4 linked regions of the Homo sapiens genome follow. The protein of the gene in region 2 purifies or fractionates together with the protein of the main gene of each other region. This does not show direct contact. Each region holds a gene or a part of one and is shown on either strand. Other genes may lie near its edges.

Region 1 (4,843 bases), on a different chromosome or scaffold from region 2:
ATATCTCCTGCCAGAAATGGGGTGCTGAAAAAATGATGGAGGACACAGAGCCAGGTTAAAGGGCCTCCCCTACTGGCCATACGTTGGATAATTGAGTATTAAAATAATGACAGTGTTATAATCTACAGAATAAAATAAGATGGCTGGGCACGGTGACTCACGCCTATAATCCCAGCACTTTGGGAGGCCGAGGTGGGCGATCACTTGAGGCCAGGAGTTTGAGACCAGCCTGGGCAAAATGGCAAAACCCCGTCTCTACTAAAAATACAAAAAAGTCATCCGGGTATGGTGGCAGCCGCATGTAATCCCAGCTACTCAGGAGGCTGAGGTGGGAGGATCACCTGAGCCCGGGAGGTGGAGGTTGCAGTGAGCTGAGATTGCACCACTGCACTCCAGCGTGGGTGACAGAGTGATACCCTGGCTCAAAAAAAAAAAAAAAAAAAAAAGATACAGAATAAAATAAGAATCCAAGAGCCCATACAGTTAAGAGCTTCCTTACAATGGAATACCAACTCTTCAGCTCTTTTGAGAATGAAATAATAATAACAAAAAAAATAGGATACCAACTTTCTTGTAGAAGAGTGATATAGAAGAAATGATGAAAATAGAAAAACAGCCATTTGACAACCATCAGAATAATATTTACATAATCTGAAAATACTTTGCCCAAAATAGGTTAAAATAGTAATTTTAGATTGAAGAAACCTGGCAGACAGTATCTTTTTTTTTTGAGATGGAGTTTCACTCTTGTTGCCCAGGCTTGAGTGCAATGGTGCAATCTCGGCTCACTGCAACCTCCGCCTCCCGGATTCAAGCAATTCTCCTGTATCAGCCTCCAGAGTAGCTGGGATTATAGGCGCCTGCCACTACGCCCGGCTAATTTTTGTATTTTTAGTAGAGACATGGTTTCACTATGTTGGCCACGCTTGTCAAACTCTTGACCTCAGGTGATCTACCTGCCTCGGCCTCCCAAAGTGCTGAGATTACAGGTGCCCGCCACCATGCCCAGCTAATTTTTTATAATTTTAGTAGAGATGGGGTTTTACCATGTTGGCCAGGCTGGTCTTGAACTCTTGACCTCAGGTAATCTGCCCACCTCGGCCTTCCAAAGTGCTGGGATTACAGGCGTGAGCCACTGTGCCCGGCCCGACAGTATCCTAATCAAGCGATCCAGGCATGCATCACCAGTAATGGGACAGACAAGACAGCACGCGCCTCCTGGTATGAGGAGCTGAGGACAGCACCGCTCTTGTGGTATTCCTGCCAAATATTCATAACCTGGATCGAATCTTGAGAAGTATCAGAGAAGCCCGACTGAGAGGCTCAACAACATAACTGGCCTGCACTCTTCCAAATACCAAGGTAATGAGAGGCAAAGAAAGACTGTTCTAGATGACAAGAGACTACAGAGTCATGACAGCAAAATGCAACGTGAAATCCTGGACTGGATGCTGGAACAGAAAAATATGTTTTCCCTTTCGTTATAACAGTTCACAACTGGCAAGATCTGAATGAGGCCTATAGATAGATATGAATATTGTAAAAAAAAAAGAGGCCAGGTGTGGCATGTGGTGGTGTGCACCTGTAATCCCAGCTACTCGGGAGGCTGAGGTGGGAGAATCACTTGAACCTGGGAGGTGGAGGTTGCAGTGAGCTGAGATCATGCCACTGCGCTCCAGCCTGGGCAACAGAGCGAGACTCCATCTCAAAAAAATGAATTAAAAAAAAAAAAAAAGAGTGTTCTGCTAATGTGACCCACAATATGCAATTCTGTAGTGGTACTCTGAGGCTTTGAAAATCAAGTAATAGGAAGAGAGCCCATTAATTCCAGGCCACAAGCAGCCCTGGAGAAAATAGAAATTCAGAAAAAAAAAAAAAAAGAGAGAGAGAGAGAGAGAAACAAGGCAGGATTACCATACCCAGCTCTGGGTTCAAGTCTCAACTCAGCTACTGTCTGGCTTAACAACAACTGGACAGGCCCTCTGACCTCTCAGGTCTCATTTCCACCAGATTTCCTGGGAAACAAGCCACTGTCTTTATTAGTAAACTACAAAATGTATTTTGCATGAGTACAAAATGTATTTTGCAAGTGAGTAAGTATGTAAATAAATAAGTCATCTTTTGATAATAACATGAATTCTGGTTTGTTTGTTTTTTTTTTGAGAGACTCTCGCTCTATTGCCCAGGCTGGAATGCAGTGGAGTGATCTTGGCTCACTGCAACCTCCACCTCCCGGGTTCAAGCGGTTCTCCTGCCTCAGCTTCCCAAGTAGCTGGCATTACAGGCGTGCACCACCACGCCCGGCTAATTTTTGTATTTTTAGTACAGACGGGGTTTTGCCATGTTGGCCAGGCTGGTCTTGAAATCCTGGACTAAAGTGATCCACTCGCCTCGGCCTCCTAAAGTGTTAGGATTACAGGTGTGAGCCACCGTGCCCGGCCTAAAATGGATTCTATTTTAATATCAGTCAATCACAAAACAATCCCCCTAGACAGCCCTCTCTTAGATTTTAATATTATTTTCACTAAAAAAAGGAAGGGAGATGAAGAAATGGTATCCTTAGTAGAATGCAGCTTGTAAGTTTCCCTCCAATTCTCAATACATTTTGCAATCCCATTAGTTCTTCTTCTGTAATAATTCTGCTCTTTCAGTTCTCCTCCTCCCCTCTTTTTGGTGTGTCTAATTTGCTTTGCATGCATTTATTTGGAGCTCGCATGGCTTTGCATTTTAAATACCAAGAGTACGTAAAAATAGCCATTTTGAATCCATAACACCTCTGGAATATTTCCACCCATAGGCACTTAAATATAGAAACTTTTATTCAAATAGCTCACACTATCATTTTGCTTTATTATTCTAAGAGCTGTGGAGTTTAGGAATAAACCACATGAAAAGGAGGTAGTGCTGGGACGATGCCAGCATGCCCCCTAGTGGGCAGCATGAAACATTTCATTTTTAATAAGGGTCCAGCCACGTTAACATGTTCACTGTTCGTTCAGCTGCTAATCTTTGAAGAATGAGGTGCATATCTTTATAAAAGAATTCCTGTGCATTATCTTTGGCTTCTTAAACAGAAAACAGTGACCACAAGGAAACCTCTCTATCATGACTCAGGTCCATTTCTTTGGACCCTTTGTAAGCTTCCATCACTGAGTGAATTTCTGTGCTAGCTCCAATTTGGTGCCGCCCCACCCCGTGCCTGCAGGATGTCTGCATGGTGCAGACAGTAAGTCTTGGTGTTTCCAATTCCAATAGTCTCACTACTACTAATGCTTCTAAGACTTTATTTTTTAAACATTATTTTTAAGTAGAGATGGGGATCTTGCTATGTTGCCTAGGTTGGTCTTGAACTTCTGGTCACAAGCAAACCTTCCGCCTCAGTCTCCCTAAATGCTGGGATTACAGGTGTGAGCCACCTTGCCTGACCATGCTAATGCTTCTAAGTTTGCAGTCTCAAATTGTGAAATTATCAATGAGCCTCACTTAACACATCCTCTTAAGGATAAATATTAGTAAGTAATATTAAGGCACCCTAATGTGTTAAGAGGATGGATCCTGACCTTCAGGGAGAGTTGGGCCATCAAGGGCATGATAATATGTAAAGGATTACTGTAAAAGTGTTAGAGCACCCACTTAAAATAGGCTATTCTCTTATTTAGCATCTCGTGTCTATACTTTCTTCCATCTCACTTTAAAAAAAAAACCCACATAATTTCTTGGAAATAAAAACATAATAGCCCTTTTAATAAAAAGACAAAAGTGGTCGAGACTGTGGCTAGCATGTTCTACATAATTCACATTCCTTAAAGTTTCTATTAGGTCTTTTTAGGAAGAAAAGATTGTCCTCATTCTTTTCTGCCTTGCAATTATACATTTCTTGACACTTTTCAAAACAGAGACACTAACAGCAAGAGACTTTTTCATCTGAGAGGTCTGAGCAAAAGCTCTCTTTACCTGTTAATTATGTTAGGAGTCTATCATGACAGCAATTGACATGCGACCCTTACAGGTCTTCCTTATTTTGTGGCTGTAATTACATGGGAATGTCATTTGTCCAGGTTTTGTCTCTGTGTATCTGTCAGGCTTAGAGATGGGCAGATAAACAATTCTATGGAGAGACTGCTTTTCATTCTTGGACTAACGATGAATACCACACATTTGTCTACGGATTAAAGGTATTACTCATTAAAAAAAAAATGTATACATGTGTATGCACAGCGGAGGGAGGGAGAAAGCAAGGGGAAAAACAGTTATGGCTTATACTCAATTTGTACTCTGAAGAAATAGGACTTGTTTATATTTCATGTAAAAATATTAGAAGGATTGGCCAGGTGCAATGTATTGGCCAGGTGCAATGGCTCATGCCTGTAATCCCAGTACTTTGCAGGGCCAAGGTGGGTGGATCACTTGAGGGCAGGAGTTTGAGACCAGCCCGGCCAACATGGCAAACCCCCATCCCTATGAAAAATACAAAAATTAGCTGGGTGTGATGGCGCACACCTGTGGTCCCAGCTACTAGGGAAGCTGAGGCAGGAGAATTGCCTGAACCTGGGAGGTGGAGGTTGTAGTGAGCCAAGATCACACCACTGCTTTGTAGCCTGGGCCACACAGCAAAAGACTCTGTCTCAAAAAAACACAAAAAACAAAAAAACAAAAAAAAGTTCATAGAATGCTAGTACAATCTAACAGATATCTTTTCCTGAGTAAATATTATATTAAAGAACAGAGCACTTCATTTCTAAAAGGTGAAGTGTCAGAAAGAGTGTGTGTGATATCAATCATTAGAGAAATTATGATAAATTGTTCAAAATGATACAGTTTGGCAATCAGATTGGGGAAGGTG
Region 2 (5,298 bases):
AGAAACAGTGGGTGATAAATCTATTTGAAGAGAAACCTTCTGTTTCTCTAACTCTTCAGAAATGGGAATGTCTTTTAAAAAAAAAATATCACCACAACAAAAATGCAGCTGCTCAATGCAGTTCTTTTAAGTAGGAGTTGATCTATAAAAAGAATAAGCATTAAAACTAACATTTTCCATTCATATGGAATTACTAATAAAAACAACACAGGTATAAACATTTTGAATTTATTTTAAAAATCACCTACCCATGTCTGCAATGTTAAAAAAAATAGTCAAAAGTATAAAGAATTATTGAGCTTTCAAGAAAAGATAAAAAGGCTTAATGAACCTGGCCTCTCCATTCAAAATGAAAACGCATTTCTTTCCCTTCCTCACCCTTCACATTCCTGATACTCATTCACCTGCCCTAACCTTTTCACTTTTTCAACATATTTACCATTTTTTTGTATTTTAATTTGCTAATTAACTATATGTACTATCATTTTTCTGTTTCTCTTCAACTCACGATAATGTAAGATTGTGTAAAAGAGACACAATATCACATTTGGCTGTGTTGACTGATTTGTTTCCTAGCTCTTCCGTTTCCCAAAATCTCAAGCTTAACAAGAACAGGTCAAAGATTTGGTTGGAAGGTCAACGTTTTCAATTTTAAATGCTTTTCCAGAAGTTGAACAGAAGCCAGTTCTTGCAACACTGAAGAAAAGTCTCACTATTGAAGCAGGGGGAAAGAAAAAATAACTCTCAGGGAAAGCTCTGGTCAAAGATCGCCTAAGCAGCAGCCAGCTGGTTCTGTTCCACGAAGGAACACACCCTTGCTGGGTAAGAGGCTCAAGTCAGCCTAATTTTGATAAGGGCTGGATGGTCAAGTTCTACATTGCACGCTTCCAACACTCATGTTACAGCCTGGAACTCACAGCTAAGCCAGAAATGCCAACCGGGCAAAGACTGGACATTACAGACTTGTCAAACATCTCATCTTTCCTTGCAAAGGAGTTGGACTTTGGATTTCAAAAAAGAAGACTCAAAAATAGTATTGATATCTTCACTTTTAGCAATTAGAAAGGTTTATCCGATAGAAAACTTAAGGTATAATATTTGGTGTTTATATATGCTACATTCAAAATTTTAATTTAAAAAATGTTAAATACAATGTGATATCCTGATGGATCCTAAAACATAAAATCATTAGTAGAAAAACTCGTGAAATTCAAATTAAGTCTAGAATTTAGCTAATAGTTAAGTCTTAATGTTGGTTTCCTTTTTGTAATGAAATACCATGTTCATATAAGATGTTAGTATTAGGGAAGCTGGATAGGGGTACATGCCAACACACTGTATTCTTTGCAAGCTGTGTGTAATTCTTAAACAATCCCAAGCTCACTTAAAAATGAAGAAAAATATACCTTAAAGTAGATTGACCAAAAATCTCATGATAATTATTTGGAAGGTGAAATACGGACAATTTTTTCTATTCTTGCTTTACATTACTTTGAATTGTCCATATTTTTACTATTATTTTATTATTAAAATTGAGACAATTATAATAAACATTATCAATAAAAATAATTTTGTCTTTCTGTATCCTAAAACACATAAATTTCTAATAGTTATTAATTAACAGGAAAGAAAATACAATGGTTACCTAATTTTAACAATGAACCTTTTTAGGTCAGTGATACCCATTTGAAAGAATTCACTTTCTTGATAGACTCTAAAGACATTCATCTTTAGGTTCTTAAAATTAATAAAATTATAGTTAAGTGATGTTCAAAATGTGGATCTTCATGATTCCATTTGTAAATAAATTTTATTACGTAATATTTTCAAAGCCATATTGTTTTAGTTAATTTTTAAATTGGGAATATCTCCAAACACAGTTACGGGCTTAAAAGTGAATTTTTGGCTAATATGAGCTATTTGGCAATTTTTTAATCCTGGATTTCCCCACATTTCTGTTTATTATACTACAATCAAAAATGATATTATGAAATACATTAAGCTTAATGAGATTTTGGTTTGAAACACAAAGTAATTAAGAAAAACAAAACTAAAGCCAAAGTACTAAATTCTAAAATTAAAACATTAAGTAAAACCACTGTTTACCCATGGGATGCCTGGAAGAGAGTATCATTGGGACATGTTGGCTGATGGTAATTCCCCTCCCTTCTTCTACAGTTTGTGTGAAGTTCCAATAAAAATACTTGGTTCTAAAACATGTAGACAATTAATAAATATGAACATAAATAAACACTTTAAAAGTAAAAAGGACAACTTAAGGTTTTGAGTCTTACTGAAAATAAATCAGAACTTGAATGAAAACAAAAATCAAAGAAAGCTGCATAGAATTTTCTCAATGCCAAAAAATTCCTACTAAAAAACGTCCTTGTGTTACAGACAACTTTTTTGGGAATATAAACATTAATTTTGGAGTATGCTAAATAAAATAAACTTTCCCTCCACCAAAGAATAGTATCTAGAACAACATTCAAATGAATTTCCTAATTTTATTAACAAGGAATAGTAGACATGATGTCATTAAGATTCTTATCTTCAAATCTTCCACCTTGGATTTGTGAAAGTTATGAGTGTGTATACTATGTCCTATTTGAATATATACACATAACACATATGCACACTATGTATGTATATATATGTATATATATATATATTTGTATGTGTATATATTTGTACATATATTTGTATAAATATATGTATTTGTTCATATATGTATTGTTCATATGTATTGTTCATATGTATATGAACAAATACAGTTGATCCTTGAACAACACAGGAATTAGGGTCACTGACCCCATGCAGTCAAAACTTTGTGCTTAACTTTTGACTCCCAAATCTTAATTACTAACAGCCCACTGTTGACCAGAAGCCTTTCTGATAACAAAAACTCAATCAATACGCATTTCATAAATTATATGTATTATGTAGTGTATTCTTACAATAAAATAAGCTAGAGAAAAGAAAATGTTATTTTAAAAAATCATAAGGAAGAGAAAATGCATTTACTATTCATTAAGTGGAAGTGGATCATTATAGAGTTCTTCATTCTTCACATTGAGTAAGCTAAGGGGGAGGAGGGAAAGGAGGCGTTGGTCTTGCTATCTCAAGGGTGGAAAGTGGAAGAAAATCCACATACAAGGGGACCCTCGCGGTTCAAACCTGTGTTGTTCAAGGGTCAACTATAATGTCATGACTCTTCTTTGCTTCCTGGGAGCATTTCCAGCATCACTATCGCATTTTCTATAGGTCTCATGGTGTTATTCAAGGTTTATGATATTGCATTACACAAGAAGAAAAATACACACAAATCATGAGAAATCATTTTTACTGCAATATCCAACTGATTGGAGATACAACTGGCTCATGCAGAGATGATTAGCATCACATGGTGTTTTAAGCAGATACTCACAGCACTTGAGCTCACTGCAGTAGCAACAGGAGGTGGCTATGAAATTATTACAGTAGTACAGTATGTACCACAGTTAATTTTATGCAGTGATGACTTAATACTGCATGTTTATGTTTGTTTCCATTTCTCTAGACTACAAAGGGCGCTATGTACAGTCTGTTTGTATGCATATGTTTTGAGAATTTTTAACTTTTGTGTATATTTTATGATAGTAATAAGAAAATAGACCAGTATCTACATATATTTTATACATTCATGACATGGCTAATTAATCTTAATATTTTCAACATTTCAAAGATACACAGTTCTTCCATGAGTTTTTTCAAATTATCACAAATCTACAGATAATTTTCCAATAGGTTTATTGAAAAAAAAAATCCACCTGTAAGTGTATCCATGCTGTTAAAACTTGTGTTGTTCAAGGCTCAACTGTGTGCAATATATACCTATATGCACACTGTATTAAGGTTTATTAAAAAGTCTAGGGCAAACCATGAAATAATAATAGTAGCTACTTCTGGGCTGTGGAAATCTGGGCAAATTTTTTTTCACTTTGTTAGAATCTACAAATTGCAAATTATTTGGTGAAAGATTCTCATCAGTATACTATTCCTGGATGCCATTAAAACACAAATACATAAAAGTATTAATAGGAGAATTTTGGGAAAATGTGACCCAAGAAGTTATTTCTTTCCTACTCTATTATTCTTTTCTTCTTAAATCTGCTGAAATGAGTCTACATCTTTTTTTTTAATTGTAAAGTTAAAGTTTATTTTTAAAACTAATATTTAGAAACGGGGATATTAGCAGTGAAGGTTAAGGAGATTGAAGGATCCTGACCCTACTAGTTATTGAAGCCTCTTATAATACAAATTACCTTAAAAATATTCTTTAAAGCATATAAATAGAATAATCAATTAAAAAAAAGAGTCTCAAATAGATTCAACTCTTATGAGGAACTTAATAAAACACAGTAAGCTTTTCAACACCAAGGAGTTAAAAAGAACTATTTAATACATTTGGTTGAGATACCAGTTAGAAAGGAAAAAAGAGAGAGGGGGAAGTTAAAGCCAATGTGAGATGATTCATCAAAATAAACAACAGAAGGACTAATGAGTTAAAACAAAACACTCAACTATGAAAAAGTCAAAGTGGCAGGGAGTCAACTACTTAAGAAAACATGAACAAATGTATTTTTAGCTTTAATATTAGGGAAAATTTTTTAAAGATTATCACTTTACTATAGAGAAATGCAAAATGTTCAAGTAAAAAAAGAAGCAAAACTGTTAAAATATTTACATCAAAATTTTGATCAATTATCAATATGTCTAATTAGGAAGAGCTTATCCAAAATTATAAAAACATGGGACAGACAAGTGGAGACAGTTATAAATAAAAATTAGCAAAAGATAAAATTATAAATAATCAAAATATGCAGAAAGTTTATTCATATTAGTAAACAAGCAACACATCAAAATAAATGTGAGATATTGTTTTACAACTACTAAACTAGTCAAAATACACTTTAAAAATAACATGCAAGCAAGAATGTGGAGAACCGGTACACCACATTTTTGATTGCATGTATAACTCATTTTGAAAACAATATGGCAGTCGGAAGCAAGGGTGATGAAGATGTTTCTTCTCCCTAGCTCAGATATTCCACTATATGAATTTTATATTGAATATATAATTTCACAGAAATAAAAGAGTTCTGTGCAAAACTTTTGCATGTTGTATTATAGCAAAGAGAATGGAAATAACCATTTAAAACAATTGTTAGATAAATTAATACAGATATATGAAAAATACTTAGAAATAGGAAAAATCCTTATTGTATAAGTCAAAACAAAAAATATTATAGTATATAT
Region 3 (4,843 bases), about 87 Mb from region 2:
ACACTGGCAACTCTTGGCCCTTGATTTAAAGCCTATTAAATAATGTGCCCATGGTTGTTGTTATGGGTCAAACTGTGTTCCTCAAAAACTCATATGTGGAAATCCAAACCCCAGGATATGAACTTATTTGATAATAGAGTTGGCCGGATGCAGTGGCTCACACCTGTAATCCCAACGTTTTGGAAGGCTGAGGTGGGCGGATCACTTGAGGTCAGGAGACCAGCCTGGCCAACATGGCAAAACCCCGTCTCTACTAAAAATACAAAAATTAGCCAGGCATGGTGGTGCGCACCTGTAATCCCACCTACTTAGGAGGCTGAGACAGGAGAGTCGCTTGACCCAGGAGGTGGAGGTTGCAGTGAGCCAAGATCACACCACTGCACTCCAGCCTGAGTGACAGAGCAAGACTCCGTCTCAAAAAAAAAGAAAATAGGGTTGTCATAGATGTAATTAGTTCAGATGAGGTCATACCGGAATAGGGTGGGCCCCTAGTTCAATATAACTGATATAGAAAGGGGAAGTGTGGATGCAGACACACACAGGGGGAGCATGTGAAGATGAAGGCAGGGATCAGGGTGATGCGTTTACAAATCAAGGAATGCCAAAGACTGCCAGCAAGCTACCAGAGGCTACAGATTTTCCCTCATAGCCTTCAGAAAGAACAAATCCCATGGACACCTTATAGCTTGGACTTCTAGCCTCCAGAAGTAGGAGAAAACAAATTTCTGTTGTGGTATTTTGTTAGAGCAGCCCTAGGAAATGAATATCATGGTTAATCTGCATCTTATTCAAGACAGGAGAATATTTCCCTGATCCCTAATGAAAATTTAATAAGCCAGTCCATGCTCTCGACTGAGTTGTGAAAAATGTGCCTAAAATGCAGAACACTTGATAATATTCAATGTCATCACACACAGGCAGGTACAGAAAAATTATAAGACAACATTTGTAAAATAAGAAGCTTCAACCCATTCATTAGGAGAAAAAATATCAGAAAAGCTATGACTGGGCCGGGCACAGTGGCTGGTCACATCTGTAATCCCAGCACTTTGGGAGGCCAAGGCGGGCAGATTGCTTGAGGCCAGGAGTTCGAGACCAGCCTGGCCAACATGGCAAAAGCCCGTCTCTACTAAAAAAAACAAAAATTAGCTGGGTATGGTGGCATGAGTCTGTAGTCCCAGCCACTTGGGAGGCTGAGGCAGGAGAATCGCTTGAACCTGGGAGGTAGAGGCTGCAATGAGCTGAGACTGCACCACTGTACTCCAGCCTGGGCAACAGAGTAAGACCCTATCTCAGAAAAAAAAAAAAAAGAAAGAAAGAAAGAAAGAAAAGCTATGACTGATACATTTATGTCTCCAGAGACTCTTACGGCAACGCATAGATAAAGGAACTACAGAGTTACACAAAAGGGTGCAATCAAAATAGACAGCACTGTTACCTCTGTCCAATACTGCTGTTTGGTTTCTGTGTCCATATGTGCAAAACCTCCTAAGACTAGAGCCTTCATCAATGTCCTCTGCACAGGACTTGACAAGAAATTAAGAGGTGGGCTTCGGCTTGCAAACTGCTTAGCTAAATTCCACCAGTTCTCACATTGAATTACTAAGTTTGCCCTACAGGTAGAAATAACAAAACATAAGATGTATTACTATGTATATACATACACACATACACATATACACACAAAGAAAACAAAAATAAAAAATAACTAGATTTAATTACTGTTAAAGCAAAGTACAGTAAACTTAGTATAGACTTTGAAGTCACAGGCTTACATTCAAATCCCACTAGTTGTCTGGTGATGTAAAATTTATTTAACCTCTATCAATCATCACTTCTCTATAATCTGCAAAATAGGAATAATAACAGTCTCCTGGGGCTGAGACTGATATAATGATTAAATGAGATACTACCTATGACATGCTTAGAAGAGTACATAGTAAATTATAAGAATTCAATAAACCAGACAATGACAATGGTAATAATAACAATGATACTCCTATACAGTAAGAACAACGAAAACATTTCTAGAATTGTTGTAGAAAGCACTAAAAATTTTACTTTCCAACATTAAATTTTAAATATCAGTATTTAATCTTTAAAATGGGGATGTCTAAAAATTCAAATGAGCATATTCCACATAAAAGTGTTTGCAACACGATAAATTACTAATGTGTTACTCATAGGGCTTTGATGCCAAATCCTGAAGGAGTCAATGTAATGCTCAATTATAAGATGGGAAAGCTCCATTTGCATTTGTAATAGTACTGTGACATAGTTTTTAAAACCCATTACTCCAAAAATGTAGGCTCTATCTGGAATTAGGACCGTGTAACCATTTGCCAGTTCAAAGGACTACACTAAGAAGTGAAAAAGAGTTTCTCACCCACACACATACACACACAGTCAGCCTCCAACAATGGGCTAACCTTTCTCTTCTTTCCACCAAAGTGACAAGGAGCTGCACAGTGTCATTTGCAAGGTCCTGCTCACTACTCCAGACTGAGAGGTTACTGATGACTTTTTGTAAGAGGTAGCCAATTATCCACTGAGAACCCTCTGTATCTGCTCCGAACGCTGTACTGAATGGCAGACTTATCTTAAGAGAGGAAACAAATTTTTTAAGGTAAGCAAGAAAGATCAACTCAAGAAAAAAAAAACAGAGAAAAATCGAACTGAAATTAGTATCTAATCTGAAGTAGTGCTTACTTCACATCAACTTTACACATGTACTCATTTCCACTGGTCAAAAAAAAAGACATCCTCAATCCACTCACATTTTCCAGTGTGATTTTCCCGTCAACTTCTATTATTCCCATAGTATTAAAAAATTAACATAGTATTAAACCAAATACAAAAAAGCATAATCTATTCCCAAATAATAATCTGTATCTTCAACAGCAGTTAAAATAAACGATATCAAGGGATGTGCTCAAAAACACATTAAAACAGCATTCCAGTCACATAATTCTCTTCCACACAGAAAATGTTAAACTGCTCTTAAACAGTTCTATTTTGATGAAAAACCACCAAGAAAAATGTTCCTGCTTCTATAACTGCTATCATCATAAATCCAAATGAAGTTTTAAGTTTTACATTCTGACCTGATCATACAGTTTTTCATCCACCAGGAGATAAGTCTTTGCCCAGCGTTTTAAAAACCAAACAATATCTTTGCCCATCTGGGGACTTAGTAGATGAGTGAGATCTGCTCTTATTGCTCGAGATTCAACTTCTGAAACTCTGAGAATGGCAGACAACAGCCTGTAGGTATAAAACAGAAGTCATTTATTCTTTTATTTATTTAGTTGCTGTCTAATCATATTTTTTTCCTTAAAAGTCCTTTTTTGTCTTTCAGTTCTCTGGATTTAGGTCAGGCTATACTTGAACATTTCATCTACAGAGTTTTAGACAACTGTCCCATATTATTTCTGATCTTTCACGAAGCAGGAGACAAGATAAGGAAAGGAAGAGTCAACACTAGAGATGTCCTTCTGCTGAAGTTGTAACCACATGTGTGAATATCAGCATTACTAGCTAAAGAGAATTTTCAGATTCAAAATTTTCAGATTTTCAGGAGAAATACATCAAATTAAATCTTCAGAGTACATGCCAAACTCTTTTAGCATGTACTACTTAGCATCACTACTTAAAACTACCCTGGTTAGTATAGTTTGTGTTTTTATATCATGGTCATGTTACAGTACAAGATCTGGGAATTATTTAGAAAGTTTTGAATATTGAGCCTTGTTTAAATCCAATATTTCCTAGTAAACTTGATTCTTCATGGTATTTTTAAATAAAACTCTTGCTAGAAAGATTACCTGTGTAAGTACACATATTGTCCTTTCCTACACTACATAATTCATATGGTCGTGTGGTGTCAATCACATAGCGTGACATGCAGACAAACAGAAATGTCTTTGTTGAGGAGGGCACATAATCAGAAGTGATATATATTTAACCTGACTTTAGCCAAAAGGCAAGGAAGCAAAGGAGGTAATGGAAAGACCCCATTACACACTAATGAATATCAGTGCTGAGAAAAGGATTCTAATCACTCAAATTCGGCTTATGCTCCTTTACTAGTGCTCTCAGGAAGCCTGAAATGATCTCATCATGAAATCATACACACGTGTTTCAGTTCTTTACCCCACTGGATGGCCCACTGTCACTGCCCTTATCTTCCTGCAGCCTCCCTGGGGTCACTGCCCTTCCTCTCTTCATCTAGCCATCTGCTTCCTCTTTCCCAGTCTTCATGGCAGCATCCTCTTCTCCTGAACTTCTTCTTTAAATCAGGAGGTTTTTAAGGTTCCACCCCAGAATCTCTTCTAATTTTTTTTCTTTTTTAGACAGAGTTGCTCTGTCACCCAGGCTGCAGTATGCCCAGACACAGTCACGGTCCACTGCAGCTTTAACTTTTTGGGTTCAAGTGATCCTCCTGCCTGAGTTTCCCAAGTAGCTGGGACTACAGGCACACACTACTACACCAGGCCGATTTAAAAAATTTTTGTAAAGACAGGGTTTCGTCATGTCACCCAGGCTGGTCTTGAACTCCTGAGCTCAAGCAATCCTCCCACCTTGGCCTCCCCAAGTGTTGGGATTACAGGCATAAACCACCATGCCCAACCTTCTTCACTGTCTGCACACTTCCTATACCACCAGTGCTCGTTTGAGTTTTTTAAAAAAATTTTTTAGGGGGTATATGAACAACAACAAAACAAACAAATAAAACCCCAACAATCTCCCAGTACAGTAATACATTTAAGTTGTAGATATGTCAAAATTCCTGGTAAGATTAAATCATTTTAAATATCTATTCCAGCCTAACAAAATTCAAAAG
Region 4 (5,314 bases), on a different chromosome or scaffold from region 2:
AGGATGGAGGTCTTACAGGAAACCAATCTTATCTGCACCTTGATCTTAGACTTCCACTCTCCAGAACTGTGAGAAAAAAAATTCTCTTGTTTAAGCTACCCAATATAAGGTATTTTGTTGTGGCGGCCCTAGCAAACACATGAAGGAAATATTGCCCGTAAGGAGAAAAAACTCAGAATATCATTAGAGATGGACAGATAGAGGTCTTCATGTTTGCAGGTGAAACAGAACAGAAAGCAATGAAGTTCCCACTCAATGTATTTCATTTCCTCTATGAAGCAGAAGGGAACTTTATCCAGTAAAGAGTAAAGAGGGGGCCGGGCGTGGTGGCTCAAGCCTGTAATCCCAGCACTTTGGGAGGCTGAGGCAGGGGGATCACCTGAGGTCGAGAGTTCGAGACCAGCCTGACAAACATGGAGAAACCCCGTCTCTACTAAAAATACAAAATTAGCTGGGCATGGCGGTGCATGCCGGTAATCCCAGCTACTCAGGAGGCTGAGGCAGGAGAATCACTTGAACCCAGGAGGCGGAGGTTGCAGTGAATTGAGATCGCGCCACTGCACTCCAGCCTGGGCAAAAAGAGCAGAACTCCATCTCAAAAAAAAAAAAAAAAAAAAAGTAAAGACGGGGCCGGGCTCACTCCTGTAATCCCAGCACTTTGGGAGGCCAAGGTGGGTGGAGTTCAGGGAGGTCAGGAGTTCAAGACCAGTCTGGCCAAAATGGTGAAACCCTGTCTACTAAAAATACAAAAATTAGCCAGGCTTGGTGGCAGGCACCTGTAATCCTAGCTACTCTGGAGGCTGAGGCAGGAGAACCGCTTGAACCCGGGAGGCGGAAGATGCAGTGAGCAGAGATCACGCCACTGCACTCCAGCCTAGGTGACAGTGAGACCCCGCCTCAAAAAAAATAAAGAGGAAAGGTGGTGGGTTAATAGCCACCATGATAAACAGGAGCAGTTAGCAGGGACACACAGGATTGTTAGGCTGCCTGTACAGTACCCAATAGACGTTTGTTATTGAATGAACACCTAATTGTCATTCATGAATTTTAGTCCGTTTTTAATATAACAAGCTCTGACAGTAACCAGCAAAAGAAAAGCACTGGAATGAGTTGGAATCTGGGTTATAAATCTAGGTATGTGTGACCTTATGCAAGGCACTTACCTTTCTGGGCCTCAGTTTCATCAGACTGGATAATCAGCATAAGATCACCTCAGATTAAAATAAATGATGCTATAAATTTTTATACCGGTTTGTGCATTACCTCAGTGTTCTTCAACTGTTACCAACCAAAGTAGTGCATCTCAAGATTTATTGAACATTCCTTTCATCTAGATAACTTGTTAAAATTGCAGATTTTGATTCAGCAGCTCTGGATTGAGCCTGAGATCATGCATTTCTAATAAACTCCCAGGTGATGCTATATACCACAATTTGAGTAGCAAGGGTAAAGAACACTGATGCAACTTAAGCTCTACAAAGCTTATAACTGTGGACTTATCTGTAATAAGTCTGATAGTCAGCAAACCAAACACACTACAGACTCACACCAGCACTAAATGTGTTTTGCCATTCCTTAAACGCTCTGAAATTAACAGTCCCTATTTGAAGCTGATAAAGAAAGGAAAAAATATTACCATCAATAACACTAAATTAGAAGTGAGGTTACATACATACACACACACAGGTACAAATATATAACACAAAGGTCAAAATCCAAATAATCAAACATTACCTTACCCAAAATTTGAATATTTTTATTGCTGAGAAAAAAAAATTTTGTTTCTGGAAAAATCTTCAGTGTATTTTAATAGCCACATGCCTACAAGGATCATGCTGCATTCTGGTTTGATTCCAAATGCAAATATATTCAAACATCACAAAATCTAAAAATTGTTCTATTAATGATCAGATAATCTTTACATATTTGTTTAAAACCTCTAACATTACCACAGCCAAATGTGTTTGTGGTGAAAATTCTCTTTGGCCTTAGAAGTTCAACTAGGGCGGAGACCACCCTCCTACCCTGAGACTATAATATATGGCCACAAGCCACTACTATAATTAATTGTTTCTACTATACCCTGTGCTAGGTTACTGCAGAAACAGAGAAAATACCAGTCCCATCATAACCAAAAGGGAAAATGTTTCTACTTTCACCGAAATTTTCCTCAGTGATGAAAGATGTAATATGTGTCATGCAATGGATGTCTCCTATAGAAGAGTCACCCTGCCCTTAATCTGAAGCTCCTCTACTGAACAGAGAAGTTTGAAATAACATGAAAATGGAGGAAGAAAATTCCTATCCCAGGAGGGGGAAAAGCATTATGGCTACAAACTATTCTTCCTTCTGAAGAATAACCGAAATCTGAAGGGCACTACCGCGCTACAACTGAGCTCGTTTAAATTATGGAGGGGAGGAGGTATGTCAACTGCAACCTTGGCACTAGTAGGTAATTTACCAGTCCTTGCTATTTAGTCAAATCACTTTCAGATAGTACTTCTCTCATTCACCAACATGTCACAAAATAATAAAGAAAAAATGACACACGTAATAAGCAAAAGTAGTTTTGCTGAATCACAAATACCCCCAAATATAAATCTACAGGAGTCGCTGAGCTTGAGAATTGGCGGCCATACCTCTCCATGAAGCTCCTCTCTATAAACGGACAACTACCTTCACTTTTTCATTAAAAGCATGTAAGGGTCTAATGTTTAAAGCTATCACACTATTGCTATTAGCAACAAGGTCGCGTGCGCAGTAACAATGCACAACGGTCTTATACTCGAGATAACCACTTTATCTCAAAATTTGCACCACCTATCCCCCAAGGGCAAATGCATCACCCAGGTCCGCAACCGCGGTCACGATGGGTACACTCGCCTCTGCTCAGCCTAGCATACGGTCCCTCCCACCCCGCACCCTGATTGCTCCACTACCATGCTGCCCACTCCCGGGCTGCCTCGGCCAGCCCCCAGTTCCCCGGGTTCCTAAGGTTGCGCAAACAGCCAAGTCTGCAGGCCGCCCTTGCCTCGCTACCGTTATCCCTCATCTCCTGGTAGCCCCACTTTCCTCCCGCCTCTCGGGACTCGGGTGCCCAACCCACTCCCTTCCACTCCCGCGCGCTCGGTGGCTCTCGGGCCGGGGCCTCACCGTTTGGTTCGGTCGGGAATTGCCCGGCCCTCCCGCTCCCACTTCCCAACACGAAGTGGCGTCGGTTGGTCCCTCTCCCCACGCTGCCAGACCCCACGCCGCCGCCTACTGATGCCGAAAGCGGCTTCTAGGAACACGCCATGTTTGGCGTCGCAGCTCCAAACGACGCGGACGCGCGAAAACTACGTCACAGGAGACCAGCGCGCATGCGACCGGCAGAGAGAGAAGGCGATAGGCGAACGGCGGGAAGGGGAAGGAGGGGCTTTGTCTTTGAACCAAAAGGCGCGGGGTATCCAAATCAGTTGTGTGCGCTTGCGCAGTGCGCTTGCGCAGTATAAAGAGCCAGGAGTCCGGACTAGCCGGATCTGTCACCATGGAAACCATAGGTCTGGTTTCTCCGACTCCCAGGGAGCTCAATTGTTTCCTGCGTTGATTGAAGCTTCAATCAGAACCATTTCACGCTTTATATTCTAGATATCAATAGCGGATCCGTCACAGCAGAGAAGAGTTATTTAAAGAATCTTACTCCCATCAGTCCACCCTCCCTCCCGCAAATATTTATTTTTTAAGTTACCCAAATTGCTTGGCGCTTACTCCTGAGTAATAGCAAGAGTGGAAAAATGTAAAAGGACATAAATCCAGTTCTGCTTGCCTCTGCTAAAAGCTAGCATAGTCACCTAAATTTTCTTATCCTTAAAAAGAGAACTTACTCAGGCGCAGTGGCGCGCGCCTGTAGTCCCAGCTACTCCAGATATGGAGGCAGGAGGATCACTTGAGCCCAGGAATTCGAAGCCAACCTGGGACATATAGAGAGTTCACACACACACACACACACACACACACACACCCATTTCAAAAATAATAAGGGGTGGGCACAGTAGCTCACACCTGTAATCCCGGCACTTTGGGAGGCTGAGGCGGCCGGACCACGAAGTCCGAAGTTCGAGACCAGCCTGGCCAACATGATGAAACCCTGTCTCTACTAAAAATACAGTAATTAGCCTGGCGCGGTGGCGGGCGCCTGTAATCCCAGCTACTCAGGAGGCTGAGGCAGGGGAATCGCTTGAACCCTGGAGGCAGAGGTTGCAGTGAGCCAAGATTGCTCCACTGCACTCCAGCCTGGGCAACAGAGCGAGACTCCGTCTCAAAATAAATAAACAAATAAATAAATAAATAAATAAATAGACTCCGTCTCAAAATAAATAAATTAATTAAAAATACACACCAACTATATATTTCTTAAAAATAATAATAGTAAGGCCAGGCACAGTGGCTCACGCCTGTAATCCCAGCACTTTGGGAGGCCGAGGCGGGCAGATCACCTTAGGTCAGGAGTTCGAGACCAGCTTGACCAACAAGGAGAAACCCCATCTCTACTAAAAATATAAAAAATTAGCTGGGCATGATGGTGCACCCCTGTAATCCCAGCTACTCGGGAGGCTGAGGTAGGAGAATCGCTTGAACCCTGGGGGCAAAGGTTGCAGTGAGGCGAGATCGCGCCATTGCACTCCAGCCTGGGCAATAAGAGCAAAACTCCGTCTCAAAATAATAATAATAATAGTAAAAGAAGTTGTAAGGAAATAGAGTGTTCAAAAATATTAATAATAGAAAACCTTTATTGCTAATTTAGAATATTCCAGGTACAGTTTTAAGATCTTTATGGGAATTATCTATTTTAATCCTCAGAACAACCCTTATGAGGTAGGTATTTTCTTTATGTCCACTTCACAGATGAAGAAACTGAAGCACAGAGAAGTCAAGTAGCCCACCTAACGTCAAACAGCTAGTAAAAGGCCATGTTAGGATTTGAACCAAGCTCTGCATTCCAAGAATGTCGATCACACAAGGGCTGTTTTTTAAAGTAAAAAGATAAAATTACCTAAACAACCACCAATGACACAAATGATTAAATCACAATACATCCATACATAATAAAATACAAATTGACCATTTAAAATTATGTTGAGGTCGGGCACAGTGGCTCACACCTGTAATCACAGCACTTTGGGAGACCAAGACGGACAGGTCACCTGAGGTCAGGAGTTCAAGACCAGCTTGGCCAACATGGTGAAACCCTGTCTCTACTGAAACTACAAAAATTAGCCTGGCGTGGTGGCATGCGCTTGTAATCCCAGCTACTCAGGAGACTGAGACAGAAGAA

What was found.
Region 1: the proteins of TNFSF13B (region 2) and PDSS1 purify together in Homo sapiens (affinity purification with mass spectrometry; 3 studies listed by BioGRID and IntAct, with this or other methods). This does not show direct contact.
Region 3: the proteins of TNFSF13B (region 2) and XPO4 purify together in Homo sapiens (affinity purification with mass spectrometry; 4 studies listed by BioGRID and IntAct, with this or other methods). This does not show direct contact.
Region 4: the proteins of TNFSF13B (region 2) and IPO11 purify together in Homo sapiens (affinity purification with mass spectrometry; 4 studies listed by BioGRID and IntAct, with this or other methods). This does not show direct contact.

Annotation. Positions count from the first base shown.
Region 1 is NC_000010.11:26,724,378-26,729,220, reverse strand, and holds part of PDSS1 (all trans-polyprenyl-diphosphate synthase PDSS1), read right to left. Parts: intron 1-4,843. UniProt on the Homo sapiens protein: Heterotetrameric enzyme that catalyzes the condensation of farnesyl diphosphate (FPP), which acts as a primer, and isopentenyl diphosphate (IPP) to produce prenyl diphosphates of varying chain lengths and participates in the determination of the side chain of ubiquinone.
Region 2 is NC_000013.11:108,271,741-108,277,038, reverse strand, and holds part of TNFSF13B (tumor necrosis factor ligand superfamily member 13B), read right to left. Parts: intron 1-5,298. UniProt on the Homo sapiens protein: Cytokine that binds to TNFRSF13B/TACI and TNFRSF17/BCMA. TNFSF13/APRIL binds to the same 2 receptors. Together, they form a 2 ligands -2 receptors pathway involved in the stimulation of B- and T-cell function and the regulation of humoral immunity.
Region 3 is NC_000013.11:20,797,727-20,802,569, forward strand, and holds part of XPO4 (exportin-4), read right to left. Parts: intron 3,265-4,843; coding exon 3,105-3,264; intron 2,600-3,104; coding exon 2,430-2,599; intron 1,614-2,429; coding exon 1,439-1,613; intron 1-1,438. UniProt on the Homo sapiens protein: Mediates the nuclear export of proteins (cargos), such as EIF5A, SMAD3 and isoform M2 of PKM (PKM2). In the nucleus binds cooperatively to its cargo and to the GTPase Ran in its active GTP-bound form.
Region 4 is NC_000005.10:62,410,769-62,416,082, reverse strand, and holds the start of IPO11 (importin-11), read right to left. Parts: upstream 3,321-5,314; 5' UTR 3,154-3,320; intron 1-3,153. UniProt on the Homo sapiens protein: Functions in nuclear protein import as nuclear transport receptor. Serves as receptor for nuclear localization signals (NLS) in cargo substrates.